Regions from separate parts of the Homo sapiens genome. Here region 2 is linked to region 1. The links come from fine-mapping of genetic effects on gene expression. Tissue or cell type: whole blood. Region 1 holds a variant in brackets; the other region holds the start of a gene. All regions are shown on one strand. Distances are from middle to middle.

Region 1 (2,763 bases):
TTTATGAAGCCATTCTCCTATTAACGAAGAGTTTGGTCATCACCAGTGTTTCACACTTGCATCATGCTCCTTGGACACACTGTTTATATCTCCTTAGCCCAGGCAGGGTTTGCTCTAGGGAATAACCAAGAAGAGAAATTGCTGGGTCTTTGAGTGTTGTGTTGCACATTTTTAATAGCCATTTTCAAATTGCTTCCCAGTTTATACCCCTACCAGTAGCATATTAAATACCTCTCTTTTCCTCCAGTTTATAAAACTTTTTCTTCTTTTCCCCTTGGATGAGTAAAAGATGCTACCTTCTATGCCTGTGGATGGGAGGGCCTTTCCAGCCCTCCTTGATTCTCACTAGGGGTCTGTTATCCATTCTGTCCGTGGAAGGCTGGCATTCTCTAGTAGAAAAAAAGAACATGGAGGGACGATAAGACTCGTTTATTTATTTATTTATTTTTTTAAATCACAGAGAAGTAAGTTTCTCTTGACCAGATGTTATGTCCACTGGGCACAATTTGATATTCTCACCAAATATTAATAGATGTGTTCCTCAGCAGAGGCACGATGGATCAGCCTGCTCTGGGGGGACTCTGTCACTGCAAAGGACATCAAGGCCTTCCTCTGTGCCCAGCCAATTCATTAGACCCAGTTAGCAATTTGCAAAAGAGATGAGTTGATCTGCAGGCTGCCAAGCCCCAGTGTTACTCAGCTACCTCCCAGAAAGCTCAGAGAAGCCCTGGCCTCCCAGGAGCCTGAGAGAGCAAATAGTAATATGTGAGGCTTTAGGCAGAGGCTGAGCAGAGTCATCATTCCTCATTATAAACAGAAGCCAGAGAGATGAATTTCTCAGCCCTTCCTGGGTTAGGGTGGGATTTGGGGCCATAGTCCAGACTCCCGGGATAAAATGAGAAGGCTCACAAAGCTGGGGCTCCCAATATGAGAGCAGTGTTTCTTTTTTCAAGCTTTTATTATTCCCAAACAGATTCCCTGGTTATCTTATTTTGAAATGTTGCTACTGGAGGCAGAACTTTAAACTCTGCATGCCTGTATTAGGAGGGACTCTTTGAGGTGTGAGGAAAAGAGGCTTGATTCAAATTGGCTTAGACAAACAAACAGAACCCAATTCATTATCTCACAGAACAGAGAGAATTGCTTCAAGCTCAGCTGGGTTCAGAGGCTCTGCAGGTGGGTGTGTTCGTCTCTCTCCATCTCTGGGCAGCTCTGGTCCTGCCCAGCTGTTCCATGCTTGTGTTAGCGTGACTGTTTTTTTTTTTT[A/T]TATATATAACTGAGTCCCTAAACTCAATCTAACTGGCCTGGTTTGGTCATGTGGCTGTCCTTGACCCTGTCACTGGGGATGTTGAGCGGCCAGGTATGGGTCCTGCACCTGTCCATGTACTGAGGGTTGGGTTGGGGCCATCTTTTTGCTACAGCCATTAAGAGGAGGCCAAGGAGGGCAGATCACCTGTGGTCACGAGTTCAAGACCAGCCTGGGCAACATGGTGAAACCCCCTCTCTACTAAAAATATAAAAATTAGCCGGGTGTAGTGGCATGCACCTGTAGTCCCAGCTACTTGGGAGGCTGAGGTAAGAAAATTGCTTGAACCCAGGAGGTGGAGGTTGCAGTGAGCCAAGATCGCGCTACTACACTCCAGCCTAGGTGACAGAGTGAGACTCTGTCTCAAAATAAAAAATACAAAATAAAAAGAGTAAATGAGAGATGGTTCCCCCTAAAGAAGTGGGGGTCAGGCAAGTAATCACAGCAGATGTCCCCTCTTCCTCCATGCAGACATGGGGAAACCATCTTACTCATGGCTTAATGCAATTAGGTATGCATTTGTGAGCCACTGAGTGTCTTTTGAAGCCCCATGAGAGGAGAGGAACAGAAGATGGCTTGAGCCCTCACCTCAAGGAGGTTAGGAACCGGTTGGTGGACCAAGACACCTTTGTGAGACAGATGAGAGTCACGTGGCCTGAGGGTCCCAGGTAATTACTGGGGCCTGTTCTGTGCCAGGCAATGTGTGGGAGCAGGAAGAGAGGCAAACAAGAACATGACATGGCCCTTGTCCTTAGGGAGAGCCCAGTGTGGCAAGGGGAGCCGGCACAGACTGGTAAACAAGTCATTACAAATGCAGTGCGGTGAGCTCGCTGATATGATTAAGCTTCCAAATGAGGGATCCTGACAAGGCCTGCTGGAGCGGAGAGGGGAGAGTGTGCTAGCATAAACAGGAGCATAGCAGGGGGTGGGGCATGCTTCCGACGCTCACCCCAAAGGCTTCTCCATTCGGCCCCCCACTGCAGAAAGGAATGTCAGCAGGGCATGTGGGAGAACCGAAGGCCGTCACTCTTTATCATGCCTTCTTTCATCCCTCGATCATAAAGAATTTTTGCCATATACTCTAAACTGCTGGGAATGGAGCACTTAACTACTATGTACTTATTTATCTAAAATGCTAAGTGTTTCCCTTAGCAATCACTAATAGATTCCTGTAGAAACGGAGTGCCATGATTAGAATTCTGATGTCTGTGCCGACAGAAGGTGGGAAGGCAACAATAGGTAGTGCACTAATGATGGGTTCAGTGGGCAGGTGGGTGGGTAGGACGATATAGTCATTGAAGGAGAAGGTTGAAATATGGGCATTTTAAAGATAAATATGTGTTTATGTTAAAAGTTGAGAGAGAGAAAAGAGGAGAGGGAGGGAGAGAAACTCTCATACCTTCAATCCCACACCTGAAATGGGGACGGTTCTGCTTTTGAAAGACTTTCTGAAAACC
Region 2 (2,763 bases), 55 kb before region 1:
TTCTTGTAGGATTTTTATAGTTTGAAGTCTTACATTTAAGTATTTAATTCATTTTGGGTTAATTTTTGTATATATTGAGAGGTAAGAGTCCAGTTTCATTCTGGAATTAGAGTGGCACTAATCACTCTATTCAACATTCTTCTGCATATGGTTAGCTAGTTTCCCCAGCACCATTTATTGAATAGGGGGTCCTTTCTTTCACTGTTTATTTTTGTTGACTTTGTTGAAAATCAGTTGGTTTTAGGTGTGCAGCTTTATTTCTGGGTTCTCTATTCTGTTCCATTGGTCTGTGTGTCTATTTTTATACCAATACCATGCTGTGTTGGTTATTGTGGCCTTGTAGTATAGTTTGAAGTCAGATAATGTGATGCCTCTGGCTTTGTTATTTTTGCTTAGGATTGCTTTGGCTATTCGGGCTCCTTTTTGGTTCCATATGAATTCTGGAATAGTTTTTTTCTAATTCTGTGAAAAATGACATTGGTAATTTGATAGGAATAGTGTTGAATTGCTTTGAGCAGTATGGACATTTTAATGATATTGAGTCTTATAATCCATGAGCATGGAGTGTTTTATCATTTGTTTGTTTTCTTTCAGTAGTATTTTGTAGTTCTCCTTGTAGAGATCTTTCACCTCCTTGGTTAGATGTATTCCTAGGTGTGTGTGTGTGTGTGTGTGTGTGTGTGTGTGTGTGTTGCTATTGTAAATGGGATTGTGTTCTTGATTTGGCTCTCGGCTTGAACATTACTGGTGTATAGAAATGCTACTGATTTTTGTACATTGATTTTTGTATCCTTAAACTACTGAAGTCATTCATTGGGTCTAGGAGTCTTTTGGTGGCAACTTTAGGGTTTTCTAGATATAGAATCATATCATCAGTGAAGAGAGATAACTTGACTTCCTCTTTTCCTATTTGGATGCCTTTTATTTCTTTCTCTTGCCTGATTGCTCTGGCTAGGATTTTCAGTACTATGTTGAATAGAGTGATCAGTGCCATATCTTAAAAATAAAACCTAATTCAAACAAATCCATGTTGAACAAAATATCACCATTTTACATAAAGACAGCATCGCAGAAATCTTTCACTGGGACCTCCCACCATAGTCAATTGCAGTGGAAATGCTCATTCTGGGCCCTCAGGAACCTCTGGGGTTACATGTGGAGGTTCTGCAAACACTTGTTCCATCCACATCTCCAGGAAAACGACCACCTAGGCTCTAATTCTTAAACTTGCCTGCACAGAACAACCTCATCTCTAATGCAATGTTTTTTTGCACACCTACATTTCTGGGCAGCAAGCTCTTTATAGGTTGTTAGGTCAATAGTAACAATTACTAAAGAGCTGAGCGGTGGCTCTTTTTTTTTTTTTTTCGTGTCTGCTTCTATCTCTTCCTGTTTTCTAAGGGTTGCTACCGTGACGTTAGGTAATGTATAGGAAATAATTTACTTCCTATTTCTGGGCCATACCAAGTTTTATCTCTGCTTGAGTCTCTTCCAGGTTGCTTGAAATGGTGCTTTTCTCAGTTAAACGTGGACTTGACATAAAGGCCAAGCCACAGGAGGCTGCCCTCTTTTATTTTATTTTATTTTCTAAGGCTCAGGGAGCATCTCTCCGTTCTCTGAGATGCTGCCTGCAGAGTAGGAACTGGGAGAGAACACTAAAATGCCCTCTCAGCAAAGAGTAGCGAGCTCCCTACAGAGAGTGAGAGCACGGGCTCTTGAGCTCATCTCTTCTCTGTGGGGCCAGCCCAGTGGTCCTTTCTGGACCTGTGGGTGTCTTCTCTGGGCAACCAGATCATTGTGTTTGAATCAGAGCATCATTGGCTGAAAACACTCCACTGTTTATAAAGGTATGTAACATGCTCCATGACATAAGCATATATAAAATGTCAGTTAAAAAAAAACTCTTTTACTCTATGTTCTTAATGATATATTTATCTTCAAGCACGCAGTTAAAGGGAAAATGCTACGTAAAACTGTGTGTGACCCAGTTCAAGTAATTCTCTCATGTGCTTAATACTGCTGTTGCTTTTGTCAAAATATTTACTACAATTCAAAATGGCTGTCAGAAACCAGGTCCACAATCCATGTTCTACTAAACAGAAAAACATTTATAAGAAAATTTATTGCTTTATAAACTGTTTTTTTTCCCAGTGATGAACCTAATTAAACTGAAAGTGTGAATTGGTTAGAACATATTAGCCCAAGTATGTGTGGTATATATATACACATATATATGTATGTTTTATTAGGCCAAGTTTTTTATTTGTATATAATATAATTGAAATATCAAGGTATTTGATAGAGCTACTATTTATAGCAATTCTACTGATCAGCCACCCAAGGGTAGCATTTTTCAATGAGATTTACAAGGGCCAATAGTCCATGTATTTATACACATATCTGACTTCCCAGTATCCAAAATAGCAAAGAGCTGGAGGCTATCTCAGATCAGCCATGGAAGCCATGCTCTGAGAGGTAACGTGTTTCTCCTTTCCCGTAGCAAATCTTTCTGTAAGAATGAAACCAGAGATGTTATCTACCAAAATGCAACGAGGGACAGGATGCAACTTAGAAAAATGGTAACATTAGCTGACTGGGAAAAACAGAATCAACGTCAGGGCCAGTTTAAAATAATATGCCTTTTAACCACCCTCGCTTTATTGCCCCAGCTAAGAGCAAGTATTTAGGACCATAGGCTAATATTAATCAGAGAGAACACTTAGGTTCTGTGGCAATGTTGGGGTCTGTGAGATTTGCTTCCTT

Evidence for each region. PIP is the estimated chance that this variant, and not a neighbour inherited with it, causes the effect.
Region 2: it holds the start of ZNF831, and the variant in region 1 is fine-mapped to the expression of ZNF831 in whole blood (INTERVAL, PIP above 0.99).

Annotation. Positions count from the first base shown.
Region 1 is chr20:59,217,342-59,220,104 of GRCh38, forward strand. The region is part of intron 4 of ZNF831 (zinc finger protein 831); the gene reads left to right. Among named protein-coding and RNA genes, the nearest start is that of ZNF831, 55 kb to the left of the region's middle. The variant A/T (reference allele first, on the strand shown) is at 1,267.
Region 2 is chr20:59,162,361-59,165,123 of GRCh38, forward strand. It overlaps ZNF831 (zinc finger protein 831), which reads left to right and starts at 1,461. Exons shown (of 6, transcript NM_178457.3): 1 at 1,461-1,847.